Regions from separate parts of the Homo sapiens genome. Here region 2 is linked to region 1. The links come from fine-mapping of genetic effects on gene expression. Tissue or cell type: whole blood. Region 1 holds a variant in brackets; the other region holds the start of a gene. All regions are shown on one strand. Distances are from middle to middle.

Region 1 (8,324 bases):
CCACTTTGCAGTCACCCTTGGCTGCTTTTTGCCTGACTGGAGGATTCTGTGGCTTGAGATGCCCAGCATTGTTCAGGACCGTGGCCTTTGAGGGTGACTCTGTGGATCATGGGGAAATTGGGTCCATTCTTATAGCTTGCCAGGAATGTGACAGCGGTTGACTGGGCCCCACCTGGGCAGTCCTCCAATTGTTGGTAGTGGGGGTCCCAGGCAAGGACAGGGGATGCTTGGATCAGACTCTTCCACTGGTTAGATGGACTGTTTTTTGTTTTGTTTTGTTTTGAGATGGAGTCTCTGTCGCCCAGGCTGGAGTGCAGTGGCACAATCTCGGCTCACTGCAACCTCTACCTCCTGGGTTCAAGTGATTCTCTTGCCTCAGCCTCCCAAGCAGCTGGGATTACAGGCGCCCGCCACCATGCCTGTCTAATTTTTGTACTTTTAGTAGAGATGAGGTTTCACCATGTTGGCCAGGCTGGTCTTGAATTCCTGACCTCAAAGTGATTTGCCTGCCTGAACTTCCCGAAGTCCTGGGATTACAGGCATGAGTCACCATGCCTGGCCTTTAAATGGACTGCTTCTTAGCTGATGTAAGAATTATGAGTACCCCAGAGAAGTCTATCCCACCAACTAACACAGAGAAAAAATACAAGCAAAATAATCTGTATGAAATATTAGTTTTAATAAAACAGAACCAGTCCATGTATGGAGGCATGGGCATAAGGTCAACTTGCACTAAATGTAACTCGTACGTTTTTTCTAAAATAATTTCTTGAGCATTGTGGTGGCCTTATGTACTAACCCGAAGCTGAACTTCCTGGGAAGCTGATCCAATGGAGCACTTGGAATTCAGGGGTGGAGTCTTCTTCCTGGGTCAGAGCTGGTTCAGGGTCACATGCTCTTGAGGTCCCTAAAGGCCACATGTGCTGCATTTCGCCCAGCAGCTCCCATCACACCTCCTCCTGGAAGGGAATCTCCTATGAACCAAAGCTCCGCTCAAAAACCTGCCAGGGTGGGGGTGGGGACAGGGCTTACAGAGATCCAGCAACAAAGCAGAGTGGGGCTGGTTAGAGGGGTCCGGGGGCATGGGCACTGGAATCACCTAAGACAGCCGCTCAATAGATTCTGGCTCCCTCCAGGCTTCCTGCACCAAAGGTCTGGGGAGGGGCCAGGTCCACAGCCCACAGTCTCAACGGCTGAGGGTGGACGTGCTGGATGGGCACACGCTTAGTAAGTGAAGTTAAAATTTCAGAATAAGGGGCTGGGGGGAGGGGGAAGATGTGTAAGCCCAGACTCTTTCCAGGGTACCAAGTCTACACAGCTGAGAGAAAGTGTGCATAGCAAATAGCCTCAGCCAGCTCCGTTAGGCTTGGAATGCGCACAAGAAAGAATTGTAAAGTTGAAGAAGTTAACTTTATCCATCCTTCCTGGTCTAAAATATGGATGGAGGCCTCTAATCCCAGCACTTTGGGAAGCTGAGTGGAGAGGATCACTTCAGCGCGGGAGTTCGAGACCAGCCCGGGCAACCTAACAAAACCCATCTCCACAAAAGAATAAAAAATTAGCCAGGCATGGTGGCACACACCTGTAGTCCCACCTACTCCAGAGGCCGAGGCAGGAGGATCACTTGAGCCCAGGAGGTTGAGGCTGCAGTGAGCTGTGATCATACCACTGCACCTCCAGCCTAGGCGATAGCGTGAAGCCCTGTCTAAATATATATACGGATGGGGAATTTAGGGACATGGGTCTCTCACAACCCCACATTGGAATGTGGTGAGATGCCTCCACCAGGATGCATCCCCAGGCCTCCTGAAGGGGAGGTGTGAGCTCAACTGTGGGCTGTGGTCAGCCTGGTGGAGGCAGCGGCTGTGTGCTCACCTGTGCATGGATAATTCTGAACACAGGGCAGCTTATGTTGGGAGTTCCCTGCTCCCCTCCCTCTCTGCCACCTTCATTGCTTAACTTCCTCCTTCTCCAAGTCTCTGGCCTCCAGTGAGCCCTCCCAGTCCCCACAGGGTAGTGGGACTCCAGGTCACTCACCAGGATGAGCCCCACTTCCACAGAGATACAGGCCCTGGAGAGGGCAGCGGTAGCCAGAATGCAGGGGCACGGGGCGGGCGAAGTAGAGCTGGTCCAGGGACATGGCGCAGTGGAATATGTTCTGCAGAGGCAGGGCCACAGTCATCAGCACAGGAGAGTTACAGCCTTTCCTGCTCTGGCTGGGTTTCTTCCCCTCCCCTGTTCTTCAGCAAATGTTCTTCTCCTTCCAGGATATTTTCTTGGGTTTTAAAATGCAGAAAGGGAAGGAGATGAGACGGAATGGGCACATGCCCTGGGGCTGGGAGTGAAGTTTTCCAGAGGCTTTTTGAGGAAGAAAGCAGGGTGGGGAACACGAACTGAACGGGAAGGAAAAGAGGGTTTTGCTCTCTACTCTGCATCCCTCTCCCTCTGTTGGAAAAACAGAATTGTCTGACTTATTGTGGCTGTTGGCATGCGTCTCTGCGAGAACTCCCTTCTCTGGCCAAGGCATCCACCTGAGCCCGGACCCCGGTGTCCAAGCTCCAGCAGGATCACTGTGAATGGCAGACAAGGGGCAACGGAGCCCGAGCACGGTTCTGCCCCCCTGGCTTGGGTGAGACCAGCCCCAGGCTGAGAAGGGAGGCAGCATGGGACAAGCGAAGGTCAGACTCAGGGGGCAGGTCTGGACAAGAAGCCTGACGTCTGTTGGGCATCCTCACAGGAGTGCTCCCCCACTGCCCTCTTCACCTTTCCCCAAACTGAGGCCATCCTCTTCCCTCGAGTCTGCTCCTCCCCATCCTCCTGCATAAGTGAATGACACCACCTTCCTCCCCCTGGCCTCTGTGCCTACCCTTCACATCACCTCCACCCTGACTCCTATGTGCACACTGTCACCAAGGCTTCTCAAGTCTGCCCGCCCCATGCCTGCTGTACCCAGCCATTCCCTTCCTTCCCGCTGCCTGGCCTTCTTTCCTCTATACCTGGACCAGTGCTGTTCAGTGAACATGTAATGGGAGCTACATATGTAGTTTTTGATTTATTAGTAGCTACATTTAAAAAGTAAAAGCAGAGCCGGTTGTGGTGGCCCATGCCTGCAATCCCAGCACTTTGGGAGGCCAAGGTGGGAGGATCACTTGAGCCCCAGAGTTTGAGACCAGCCTAGACAACACAGGGAGACTCATCTCTACAAAAAAAAAAAAAAATTAGCCAGGTGTGGTGGTGCATGCCTGTAGGCCCAGCTACTCAGGAGGCTGAGGTGGGAGGATGGATGGCTTCAGCCCCAGAGGTCGAGGCTGCAGTGAGCCGTGATTGCACTACTGCACTCCAGCCTGGGTGATAGAACAGGACCTATCTCTAGAAGGAAGAGAGGGAGGGAGGGAGGGAGGAAACAAGGAAGGGAGG[G/GGAAGGAAGGA]AGGAAGGAAGGAAGGAAGGAAGGAAGGAAGGAAGGAAGGGCAAGCTGATGAAACTAATGTCAATAATATATTTTATTTAGCCCAATATATCCAAAATATTATAATTTCAACATGTAATCAATATATAACTTATTGATGAGATATTTTACATTTTTTTCTATACTGTGTGCATTCTACACTTGCAGCACATCTCACTTTGGCCTCAGATCTTTCTTTTGCTTTTTTTTTAAATTTTCTTTCTAGAGATAGGGTCTCATTCTGTTGCCCAGGCTGAAGTGTAATGACGCATCACAGCTCACTGCAGTCTCAAACTCCTGGGCTCAAGCGATCATCCTGTTTCAGCTTCCTGGGTAGCTGGAACCACAGGTACGCACCACCACACCTGGCGGGGTTTTTGTTTTTGTAGAGATGGGGTCTCACTACGTTGCCTAGGGTGGTCTCTGATCTTTCAAGTGCTCAGTAGCTGCAATGAGGCGATTGAACCTGGCCTCCTATCTGGTCTCCCTGTCTCCAATCTCTAGTTTTTGATAAATTGACAAGTCTGAGGATGTGCTGCTGCCTTGAGAAGGGGGTGCTCTCTCTCAAGAAAGTCAGATGGCAGAGCCAGCATAGTTGTCAAGGCAGAGGGCCACAATCCTGGTGACCTTCTCAGTGGGGGCTGTCCTGCCTGTGTTTCTGAGCCCCCACTAGGGATCCCCCATTCCCTCGGTTTGACCGCTTCTCTGCCCTCTCTCAGCCGGGGTCCCTGCCACTGTCCTCCCTTCCTGATGAAAGCTGAGTATGGAGGGACAAGATAAAGCAGAGAGGTCATAGCCAGGAAGTGAGGGTGCAGAGGGAAGGCTATGGTGAGAGACCCCCTAGGCTTATACATACCCCTCCAGGAAGCCCGAAGATTCTCTCCAAATCTGGTGGTGTGAGGATGTCTCTGCCAACCACAGAGTCCTTGAAGCCAGGGGCATAGACCTCGATGCAATCAAACACTGGGGTGCCAAAAACAGAGAAATGAGATGGTGTTAGGAAGAAGAGGAGGCACTATGGGTGTACAACTTGGCAAATTTACTAACAGTCATTAAATTACACACAGAAATGGGCTTATTTTATCATATGCAAATTATACCTCAATAGGTGAAAAACAAAAATCAGTCCACAAGCAAATGATTAATTCATCCCAAAGATGCATGGGTAGGCCAGTCCAGTCCCCAGTTTTCCCCACTTCCCTACCCCAACCTTAAACACGAAGCTGCTGATCTCCTTTTGCATATGCAGCTTTTTTCACCTCTTCACTTTTCTCAAGCTGTTTTTTTTTTTTTTTTTTTTTTTTTTGAGACGGAGTCTCACTCTGTCACCCAGGCTGGAGTGCAGTGGCGCAATCTCAGCTCACTGCAACCTCCGCCTCTGGGTTCAAACGATTCTCCTGCCTCAGCCTCCTGAGCAGCTAAGATTACAGGCATGTGCCACCACACCCTGCTAATTTTTTTATGTTTTTAGTAGCTACGGGGTTTCACCATGTTGGTCAGGCTGGTCTTGAACTCCTGACCTCGGGTGATCCGCCTGCCTCGGCCTCCCGAAGTGCTGGAATTACAGGCATGAGCCCCCACGCCTGGCCTGATCAAGCTGTTTCTCTTGCTTGGAATGCCCTTTGCTGCCTGGCCAGCTCCTAGTCATCCTTGGAAACCCAGCTTGACCATCCCTTCCTTTGAAAGCCTTCCTTGTCTCTCTGGCTCATGCGTCTCCTTTGGTTCGTGCAGTCAGCTGTGCTGTAATAAAAGGTTTCTTAATTAGTCTCCTCCATCCCTTGCTAGACTGTGAGCAACTGGAGGGCAGGAACTGTGTCTTCTTGACTTTCTTAGCCCAGTTCCTGACCCCTGCAGTCAACTATGTTGACTTGAGGTTCCCTTGACTATTTCCTCCCTTTGGAATGGCACCTGCAGTTGTCAATCCTGAATGGGGCAGTGAGGAGGAGCAGGCCCAGTTGGGTCGCATGCCCGGCTGTGGCTCTGGAGGCAGAACGTGCAGCTGTCTTTACCTCTGTCTGCATAAGCGTCTCTCTCCTGCTCGTCCCAGGCCTTGCCTCCAGCCAGCGTATAGGGCATGTACTGAGTGAAGAGGGAGACTACATGGCAGCCAGGGGGAGCCAGGGTGGGGTCCAGCGAGGAAGGGATGCAGAGCTCAATCACAGGCCTGTGCGGGCAGGGAGGAGACGGCAGGTCTAAAGAGCAGCAGTGCGGAGGGTAGGGCATCCGAGATGACTTGGGACACAGTGGAGGCCCTGAGATGACACCAATTCTGGGCGATTGTCGCTCTACAGCCACAGTGGTTGTCCACCTGCACGGGCTTAGCGGCTGCTAGCGTGGTCCAGAGCACCTGTGAGGAGCTCGCCTGACCCCAGACCCCCGAATGCATGGCCTGTCCTTGCCTGCCTTCATCACACGCTGTGCTCTAACCACAGCTCCCAAACGCAAATGTCTCGAAGGTCCACACAGACAGTGGGAGTGTGGAAAGGGGCCAGGCCTAAGACAGCAGGCGCCCAAGCAGCCAGATTTCAGCCAGGCTTTAGTGGCCTGACTGTCTTTTCCAGAGCAGACCAATGGAAGACAGAGCTGCTAGGGCTGCCCCGAGCCCCAGCAGAGCTGTGACCTGCTTCCCACCCCACCACCTTTGCCTGCCACACCTTTTCTACCTGGAGCATGTTCTCCCTCTGATCTCCAAATATGAGTCTCCTTCAAGGCCACGGGAAATGCCCCTTCTCCCTGCGTCCCTCAGCTGCAATGTTCTCGCTGAACTCGGATGTCCACCAGGGATCTCAAACATCCCCTGTTCAAACCCCAATGCCTGATTAGCCTCTAAAATCTGCTCCACCCCCACCGCCTCTTCCTCTTTTCAGTAAATGGAGGCATCATTTCACAGTCGCTCCTTTTTTTGACCCACATCCCACTCCCTATCCAACAGAAAGTCCTGTTGGCTTCACCTTCAAAACATACCCAGTCTTCCAACACTTCTCATCACTTCCCCTGCCCCCACCCTTGTCCAAGCCACTGTCCTCTCTCCCTTGGATTCTGCAACAGTAACCCATTGCAACAGATGCCTTAACTTTTTCTGCATACAGTGTCCAGGTTGGTCTTTTTAAAGCATAAGGCAGGCTCTGCACAAACTTTCCTGGAGTAAGAGCCAGGGCACTTGACAAGACCCAGCACCATCCGAGACCCTTCATTCCCAGGTGCTCTCTCTCCAGCCACTCTGGCCTCGTCCCTGTGCCTCCTATACAGCAGCACACTCCTGCCCCAGGGCCTTTGCACCTGACCTTCCCTCTGTCTGGACGTTTTTTCCCCAGATACCCATAAGATCTGTATTCTCACTTCCTTCCGGTCTCCGCTCAAGTGCCACGTTATTAGAGAAGCCTTTCCTCCCCTTCCCTGCCTATTTTTCTCCACAGTGCTCATCATCAGTGCTTACTTGTTGATTGTCTTCCTCTCATGGATAGAGAGTCAACGACCTGAGACTTTCTTGGCTTTGCTTGCTGATCTGTGCCCACTCACTGAACCAAGCCTGGCACAGAATAGAGACCCCAGAATATTTATAAATGGATGAATGAACTTTGCCCTATACCCTTCTTTCCAGGCGCACATCTTCTTTACCACATGCTATAAATATTTGTGTACCTGTCCTATCATAAGCTTTGTGTCAGTTTCATGCCCCTGCCCCGCTAATTCTCCCAGCCCATACCCAGTACAGAGTCCAGCACTGAGTAGGTTTTCAACAGTGTGTGCTGGACAGCGGACAGGATGGAAAGGCACTTGCTCCTATAGCGCCCCTGCCTGTTCCAGAAGAATGGAAATACAGCTGCAGTGGGAGGTGGGAAATGCTTTTAGAAGTTTTGCAAGAAGGCAGATTATCAGAAAAAGAAAGGCTACGGAGCAGGGGACTCGGTGAGTGCGTGCTCTCTGACGGGCTCTGAATGAGAGAACTTCCTTTGCTCTCCCAGAACACATTTTCTCCTCTTCTTCCCCAGCCCCAGCACTTTCCTGGGCAGTGCTCTGCCCCTCTGCCCCTTCTGCTAACCTGAGCCGCTCTTCACCCCTTACCTGCCCTCATCCTCAGATTTTTCACCTGGGATGCACTTCCTGTCCTTAGGAGTATGGATTTTGGCAGATCCTAAGTCACTGTGAAGGTTGAACACCAGGCCTGATCCCTGCTGTGGGTGGCATGGACAGCCCCGCCTCCCAGGCCCATGTGGAAGAACATCAGGGAACATAAAGTCCAGGGCCCCTACCTGTGGGAAGGCAGGCCATCCATGGCATCTTCAAAGGCCTGATGAAGGAGGAGGGTGTCTTCACAGTTCAGGTGGATGGAGCATTGGTGATGGGGCAGCGGCTGGCCCCTGGGAGCATTGGGGGCCGCCAGGAAGCTGGGCAGCCTGTCTACGGCCACTGAGGGACCAAAGAGGAGGGTCAGGTCTTAGCCCCACAAGGTCCTCCCTCTACAGCCAGCACCCTGCTACCCTCAGTGGCGGACGGGAGTAGGAAAGTATGAGCAAGTGTTTCACCTTCTGACCAGGCTGCAGGGGGACACAGGCTGGAGGTCCGGGAATGGAGATGATGACTGAGTTCAGCTGCCCCCAGCCTGGAGGTTTCTCACTCAGATGGGTCAAAGGAGACAGTGCTGCAATGTGGTGTGCCTCTTACCATTGATCTTGGTGACAGGCGACCGGGTGTCCAGCTGAGAGATTCTCTCCAGGAACTCCTCAGGAAGCCACTCCTGGAAGGAGAAGGCTCCATGAAAGGCCTCAGATGTCCAAGGCCCCAAGGAAGCTGCCTTCTTTCTTTGCTCAGGAAGATCCCTCAGTCGCTCCCTCCGGAAATCCTCTTCATCCTTCAAAGCTCAGCCAAAACCACCTCCCCTGTGAAGC
Region 2 (8,309 bases), 29 kb after region 1:
CCCACAGACCCCCTTCCCAGGAGTCTGTTCAGCAGGTGTTTCACAGAACCAAAAGTTTCATGAGCTAAAATTAACTCTTACCATATGAGAAGCATGTGAGAAGCTAGTTGGTTACAGTTCATCTTAAAAAGTGCTGGTTGACATACTCTTTATTTGTATGGGCTTTTGAAAATGTTCATAAGAAAGTTTAAACAATCCGCCAGTGGGACTCATGAACAGATGGAATCTGTCTCTCAAAGACATGCAGCAAACTAAAGGCAGACAGTCCTGGGCTCAGCCCAGCCTCTGCTATTTGCCAGGGCATGACCTCAGAGAGTCATCAGCTGCCCTGAGCCTTGAGTTTCTTCACATGGGGAACAGAGGGTGCCAGGGACCCTGCAGTGTGGCAAGGATGAGATAAATGGGAGCTATTTGTCTTTTAATTGGTGCTGATGATCGATCTTGGAAAACTCATAGTCTTCCAGGCAACTGGGTCCAGTTCAATCATGGCAGACCTCAAATGAGTAAGGTCAAGGATCCAAAGCACAAGACCCCCTCCCAGTGACCACCCTCAAGTCCTGGCTGAGCCCTCCTTGGCTTCTGGTGACACCTCTGTTCCCTTGAAGAGGACTTCAGCTGCGGGCTCTGCTAATCCCCAGACCTGCCTCAGGGGCCCCATAGCAGGCGCCTGGGCCCTTGAGGAGCTGCTCTGGGCGTGGGCTCTGCAGCTGCCTGCATCAGGCAGTGTTGGTTGGGTGGATGTGCTGACCTCTGGGAGACACCTCCCGCCCTCAGAATGCTCGTCACCAGGTATGGGGCCAGGAATCTCCATTTTAACAAGCCCCCTCAGTCACTCTCAGGCACATTTAGTCAAATGACTAAATGAGATTCATCTTCAAGGTGGCGGCCAGGTGCCAGTGTGCCTTCAGGGACTCAGAGGTAACCCTTGTCTCAGAAGATGCCGTTCTGTTCCTCACTGAGGCCCAAGATGCCTTTAAACCAGGCTTTATGGTATGTTTAGCAACTAAAGAAATCATGTCAAGGAAAAGCTCACACACTGAGACTCACTCGCACTTGTAGGCAAGTCACCAAGGCAGCTGGTGACCTAAAGTCAACCTTCCCCATTAGGAGACAGCAGGGTGAGCTGTGGCTGAGCACGGAAGGAGGCAGGGGGCTTCTCTGAGGCTAAGTGAGGTGCTGGAGATGGCTCCCACCAGCCCGGGGAGTTTGTGAGCCGGCTGTCAAACAGCCATTGATATAAACTAAATTATATAAGCTTACAATTAAATAAATTAAAAACAAAGGTAATAAATACTCAAAACACACTACCTCCTATTTGTTTTACTACATTTGACTGTTGCCCATGCCCTGGCAGTCACTGGCCTCTATGTACATATCTGCATGGTGGACACACTATACAATGATGTGCTACTGGGTATCTCTCCTAAATCACATTGAGCAACCTCATCTTGGTAACAGAAAAGGCTATGGTGGGAGTATTTACACCACTGTCATCAGCAAATATTACACAGAAGGGCTGAATTTATTTTTTGTGGTCAGGCTTAAGAAAGTGATGGGAAAATGCTAATAATGCAGATTAAACCTAACAGTGTTAGCTGTTATAGCATGAATAAATAGCACAAAAATTGAAGGAAATATTCTAGTATTAGAACAATATTATCTTATTTGAGTAACATCATTCCTGTCATTTAAAGAAGGAGGCCGGGCGCAGTGGCTCACACCTGTAATCCCAGCCCTTTGGGAGGCTGAGGCAGGTGGATCACAAGGCCAGGAGTTTGAGATCAGCCTCGCCAACATGGTGAAACCCCGTCTCTACTAAAAATACAAAAATTAGCCGGGCGTGGTGGTGGGCGCCTGTAGTCCCAGCTACTCGGGAGGCTGAGGCAAGAGAATCGCTTGAACCCAGGAGGCGGAGGTTGCAGTGAGCCGAGATTGCGCCGCTGCACTCCAGCCTGGGCAACAGAGCAAGACTCCATCTCAATAAATGAATAAATAAATAAAATAAAAATAAATTTTAAAAAATAAAGGAGTAAGGTTGGGACATAAATCTTTGTTGTTTCATTTGTTTCACGATCATCCTACTCTTTACAGAAAATATGGAGCACCGTTCTCTTTGGAGCTACCCTCATTTGTCATTTGCAACTATAGGTTGGCTACTGAGTTTGGCAAAAATCAAAGAAAGCCTTTGGTAAGAATCACTCGGGTAGACTGCATTTAAATTGAGAGTATTGTATCTTTATTTGTAAAATTGTGTGCAGTGTATCTTTTATTTCAATATTTAAAATAAGCATGTGTATATGTGTATATATATGTACGTAACACATATACATATATATACACATATATGTGTGTATATATACATATATATACATGTACACACACACATACATCACACATTTTTCCCTGGAGAGGTGAGTGTTGAGTATCTACCAGCTCGCAACTGCTCTAGTACATATGAAAATGAAGGCATGCCCTCAAAGCTGCATGTTGAGTGCCGTCTGCTTTCGGTCCCGTCATTATCTCTGTATAGACCCAGTTGGCAATCATGCATTTGGGGCCCTCTGCAAGTGTGAAAGGAAGGCACTAAGGAAAGACCACCTGGTCCTGGGCCTGCCTCTTCCCCTAGCACCCAGTAGACTGTGATACTCTGAGCCCAGGGGTTGGCAAAGTGTGGCAGATCACTGCAGATCCCCAAATGTCCCAGAGCTGCAAGGCAATGGGGTCCATCTCCCTCTGCAGACACGCAGTAGGAACTCTGGGACTCAGTTCTGTTTTATCCTAACTGGCCTTTATGAAATGACTGCAGTTTCTTGTGACGAGGGGTGGCCTCAGTGGTAAGGTAGTGGTGACCAGAACTCAGGGCACTGAGGGGGCGGGGTGCTGGATTTCACTTGTCTGTTGGCCCAGGGCTCTTTCCAACCCTTACAAACCATAGGCTGAGAATGTGGTGGAAACTAGGTCACTTTGCAAGAGATATAGGGAAACCCCTGAGCTCACCTAGTCTTCCTGTCATTCTCCATGGGAAGATCCAAGCCCAGAGAAGGCAAGCATTTGCCCCAGGCCACACAGCAGAGCCAGCACCGGAATCCCAGGTGCCTGCCTGCCAGATGGAAGGGCTTTCCATTGCAGCCCCTGCTAGCGTATAAACTTCTGGCTGGGTTATGCCAGAGGAGAGAGCAGTGGGGCTTGGCTCCCCCTCCCCCTCCCCACCAAGCTCTGAGCAGGGCTGTCTTCCCGCCCCTCAGCTCTGGCCCGGCCTGCTTTACCACTTTACCTGCTCCTATCACCACCGCATCATACTCAGGCTTCAGACCTCCCCTGGCTTCCGTGTTATCTCGTCTCCACGCCGGGAAGGGAGAGGCGGCCACAGCCTTGCAGAGACCTCGGCCACTTGCAGCCATTTCTGCCCCAGGCTGGGCCTTGCTAGGCAGGGAGTTTGCTAGCGATTGGCTTTTGTGCTGCCCTAGGCACGGGGTGGAGCAGGGAGGAAGCAGGAAGAGGAGGAGCTGCAGTCCCCCTCCAGGCCCCCTCCACCATGCATTCTTGGCCACAGGCCAGCCTCCTGCTGCCCTGGGGCTGTGCTGGGCCGTCGGGAGTGTTGCCTATTAACCAGGCGGTGTCACCTCCAGGATGCAGGGGATAATGGCAAAACTGACAATCCACTGGGGTTCCTATGTCAGGCTGGCATTGTGCTGAACCCTGTAGGCAAAACTCCCCATTTTACAGATGAGGGCGCTGAGGCTGCGGGGTTAGGGAATGAGTGGTGGAGGCAGAGTGGAGCTCGAAAGGGCCCTCTCCTCCCCTGTGCATCTACCTTCTCAGTCAGAACTGAAACGCCTGGGATGGCAAGTGCTCGTGTCAGACTCTGCTCCAACTCCATGCTGAGTCTGCCAGTGCAGAGTGGTGATGCCTCTACGCCCACAGGAGGCGCCCAGGGCGGCCATCTAGCGTCACCACGACCAGGGCCTTCAGACACCGCAGAGGCAGCTGTGTCTGTCGCTGAGGAGCACTGGAGTCCTCTCCTAAATGCTCAAACACAAACCCACAACGAGGGCTTAGGGGCAAGTTCGCTGTCTGTAATTCTCTGGTGTTTTAGTTTTGAAGGCCTGGCCAGTTCTCCTCTTTTGGCACCTTGCCCATTTTCCAAGAATCCCCAAGGATTCGAGGTCACATCTGTAAATACCTCCAGCTAAAGTTCTTTCTGACCCTCCCTTAGGCCTGCCTTGAATTAGGAGCCCCTTTGTTCTCTGCCCATTACTTAGCAGAGTGTTCCCCTAGGAGGAAAAAACCCCTTGGAGCGGAGAGTTCCTGCACTGCTCTGATATCGCAGTGTGACGGAAACCTGCTATTGGTAACGAATCTCAGAACTGGGAGAGTATGTGGAGATGATCCTAAGAGGGGGTTCCGAGGACCCCTCCACACACCATGGACAGTTACCCCGCATGTGAGCATCTCTGCTAAGATCTGATTCAGGATGTTCACTCCTGTGTTATTTATTATATAGAAAGATCAAGGGGACTGGTTAAACTAGACATATCACATCCAGCCGCTGCTAAAAACTAAAGGGAAATAGTAGGTGACAAAAGCAGGGGTCCTGAACAGTGGTGGGCTCAGGGGATTGGAGTTTTTTCCTTTATGTTTTTCTGTATTTTCCACAATCCACGCTTTTCATTGCCATTCCATCAGATGATGTTAAGGAGGAACACAGATCCAGTCACCTGAGGGGATACTTCCTCACTGCCACCTTCTCAGGGTTTAGACCAACATGTGGGTTCTAGTTCCCCCAGCCCCAAAGCTGTTCCCTGCAAGGAAGAGATCAGTCTTTGAGCAAATTTTGGCTCAAGACTAAAGACACAGAAGGCGAGGCTCCTGCATGCACAGCACACGGCCATCTGATCCTGTGCTGCAGTGGACGCTGACTTTCGCCACGCCGTCCTCTCTGGCCCAGCACCGGCCTCCTGGCCTCAGAGGAGCAGACACTCCCAGTCCCAGGGCTCTCAGGGTCTCTTGTCCCTGGGTCCATTCTGGGACAGGAACTTCTCGGTTGGAAGAGAGGGGCTGTACCCCTCGGGTGGTGGTTCTCAATCCAGGGCGCACCACAGAAGCTTTGAAAGACATCAAAGGCTGGGCTCCACGGCCGCCAAGGGAATCCAAATCTCTGGGCCAGGGCCAGGGGCTTGAGAACCCCAGCCCTAGGGCAGACGCCAGCCAAGCATGAAGGGGCTGGGACTTAGCAAGGGCTTATCAGCACTGACAGAAGGGTCTAGAAGCACTAGCATGTTGGGCTTCAGTGATAACAATGACCAACATTTATTGAGCACCTACCACACTGGGTAATCCTCACACCACCCTGGGACGGAGGTGCCATCGCTTTAAACGTGGGGAATAGAAGAAACTTGCCAGGAGGTGCAGAGAGGAAGTGGCAGCGCTGGAATTCAAACCCAGGCAAAGGAGCACCTTTTACCTGGGGTAGGAGAGAGCTTGCTGGGTGGGCTTCCTCCACGCAGGGAACAGCAGAGATGGGGCTTCCTCCCCATCTCCCAGGATAAAGGCAGAGGCAGCTCTGGAAGAGGAGCTGTTGCCACCGTTGTTTTACAAACAGGACCCCTGGGCTTCCCTCTTCCTCCAGAGAGAAGGATCTGGGGCCTTGCTCAGTACCTGACATGGAGGGTGGTCTAGGTGGGGTTTTAGAAGCCCTGGGGCCACCCTGGGCACTCTGCCCTATCCTCAGGATGGCCACTGCAGACAGGAGGCTCTCGTCATGGGGAACAGTGGCAAGCAAGGGTGGCTGGAGGACAGGATGCAAAGGCAGACTGCGGCCACCTTGGCCTAGAGCAGGGGGATACGGGAGGCCTCCCAGAGGCGCCGGGCCAGCTGGCCGGCCTGCTGCACCAGCAGGTCAGTGGGGATGACAGACAGGTGCAGGGCCAGCAGCTCGTAGCACCTGACAGCCTCGGTTGGGCGGTTCTTGCTGTAGTAGCGCAGGAGCTTCCTGGGGAGGAAGGGGAGGATGGGATTCAGGAGTGAGGCTGTGGCACTCCTCCAGCGCCAGAGGCCTCTCTGGGCCCTCGCAAGCAAATGCCCATGCCCTCGGTCATCTCACTAGGCCCCTGCATGTGGGCCTTGACAACCGCTCCGGTTCCTCACTGACCTAACAGTGGCATCCTGGCTACGAGGTAGCAGTGGGGATGTTCTGGGCCGGGCACAGACGTTCCCCGTGCTGCCAAGACCATGCCAGCAGGAAGGTGGTAGGAACACAGATGTACCCTCCACACCCGTCCTCCCTCGCTGCACACAGGGCCAGCCGGGAAGGTGTTCCCAGCGTGGATTTCTGGGTCTGAGGTAGGGCACTGCTGAAGCAGAAGCTGCTCCCGGCAGAGGCGAGCACTTATCACCCAAATGGGGGCATCTGTCCCCAGTGGCTCCCAACGCAGCGTCACCTGTAGTAGTCTCCTCCCAGCATGCCGATAGGCACTGAGTCGTCGGAGAGGACGGGCACCTCGATCATCTGGAGTTTGTACCCCTGAGGAGGGAGGACAGGGAGGCAGTGGGTGTGGGGGTAGTGCAAGGGCCTGAGTCAGACGCACCGGGCTTGCGGCCTGGCTTGGCTCTGTCATGTGCGCTGGGTGCTTGGGAAAATGCCTGGACCTTGTTTTTTCATCTTTGAAGTCAGAATGACAACAGTCACCTTATGAACATTAGAGAAAAAGTATACAAAGCTTCAAGGGCCGGCAGGGTAGCTCTCATTACCGTCAATACCTGGACCTGTACAGGCCACAAACACACGCTCAGGAGGGCACCCTGCAGGGCTGTCATACAGGTCTTGAAGAGCAGAGCATTCACAAAAGGCCCAAGCCTCTGCTCTGAAAGAATTGGGAATTCCCAGGGTGGGATAAGGTGGGGAAGGGAATTAAGATCTGCTGGACGTGCCGTGTGTGCCAGGCATGAACATGGCACTTAGCTGATGCTTGCCTGGGCACCGTGGCCTGCCCTGCAGGGGGAGTGGACTCCCTAGTGTGCAGGGCTGCCCCCACGGCACCGGCTGGGCTGTGTGGCTGGCATTCAAACCTGGCCTCTCCAGCCCACAGCTCTGCCTCACTTTATCACCCCACGGGGCCACCCAAGCACACAGACTCCTGTCCCTCCCTAGAAGTGAAGGTAAAGGTCACAGGAATTTTCTAGCACTTCTGTTGTACACACGTCCTGGGCACTTCTGAGGGCACGGAGGAAAGCTGGGAGCCTGCAGGCCGGGGGAGCAGAGCTTGGGCTCCGGCTTCCTCACTTACAGCCTCGGTGGCCCTGGCCATGGCGTCTGATCTCCGGATCATTGTGTCTCCATCCGTACAACGGGGTCAGGAATCCCTGCCCCAGCCACTTTACAGGGCTGTGAGGGGGTAACTGAGAGAACAGTGGTGGAGAGCCCCAGTAACCGCCCTGCCCTATGGAAAGGGATGGCTGTCACCCTCAGTGAACAAAGAGTGCAGGGTGGGGGCAGGGGAAGGCACAGGAGTGCAGGGACCCAGAGACCAAGGGCTGCGAGGGAGGAGGAACACTCCTGAGAGCTGGAACAACCACTCCTGAGAGCTGGAACAACCACTTATGGTGACAAGCGAGATGCAAATAAAAGAGAAACAGGAGGAAAGCGAAGAAAGGGAAAAGACAGAGAGGAGGGAGAGACAGGAGGAGAGGAGTCCCAGCCACTGCACCCCTCACAGCCCTGTGCAGTGGCTGGGGCAGGGATCCCTGACCCCGTTGTATGGATGGAGACACAATGATAGTAAGCTCCCCCCACTGGACCCTACTCTGCAGTAACAGTGAGGCCCAGAAGAAGCAGTGCAGGGCCTGGAGGCCAGGGCCCCGAGCCACACCACCAGTGTCTCCTCAGGCAGCCTGGCTCACTGCTTCAAGCAGGGGCCTATGCTCTTGAGTTCAGGGGCCTATGCCACAGGGATGACCATGTGCCACACTTGGCATGTGACGCTGGCGACATGGAAGCACTAGCGACAAAGTGTGTGGTCTGAGTCGCATTTCTCACAGTGGGGCATGTGCCTTTCTGCTCACATGTGTGCCTGGATGCCACGTGGACAATGGCAAGAGTTTGCCAGACAGCTGGGCAGAGGGATCACAAAGCAGTTAAACGCCCATGTGAAAATGTGACCTCTGAACTCTGGCTCCCAACCTGCTGGGCTTACCAGCAACAAGAAGAGAAGATGAGACAGACAGACAACAATTCAGAAGAAAGGAATCCAAGAGTTACAGAGCGGGAAGTGTGTGTGGCCCGTCCTGGCCCAGGGACTCAGCCTCACCTA

The links. PIP is the estimated chance that this variant, and not a neighbour inherited with it, causes the effect.
Region 2: it holds the start of PYROXD2, and the variant in region 1 is fine-mapped to the expression of PYROXD2 in whole blood (INTERVAL, PIP above 0.99).

Annotation. Positions count from the first base shown.
Region 1 is chr10:98,382,910-98,391,233 of GRCh38, forward strand. It overlaps PYROXD2 (pyridine nucleotide-disulphide oxidoreductase domain 2), which reads right to left. Exons shown (of 16, transcript NM_032709.3): 11 at 8,101-8,173; 12 at 7,689-7,845; 13 at 5,445-5,599; 14 at 4,292-4,398; 15 at 2,038-2,158; 16 at 659-959. The coding sequence ends at 889. Among named protein-coding and RNA genes, the nearest start is that of MIR1287, 8.2 kb to the right of the region's middle. The variant G/GGAAGGAAGGA (reference allele first, on the strand shown) is at 3,418.
Region 2 is chr10:98,411,735-98,420,043 of GRCh38, forward strand. It overlaps PYROXD2 (pyridine nucleotide-disulphide oxidoreductase domain 2), which reads right to left and starts at 3,448. Exons shown (of 16, transcript NM_032709.3): 1 at 3,275-3,448. The coding sequence starts at 3,401. HPS1 (HPS1 biogenesis of lysosomal organelles complex 3 subunit 1) reads right to left here. Exons shown (of 20, transcript NM_000195.5): 19 at 6,441-6,523; 20 at 4,464-5,992. The coding sequence ends at 5,830.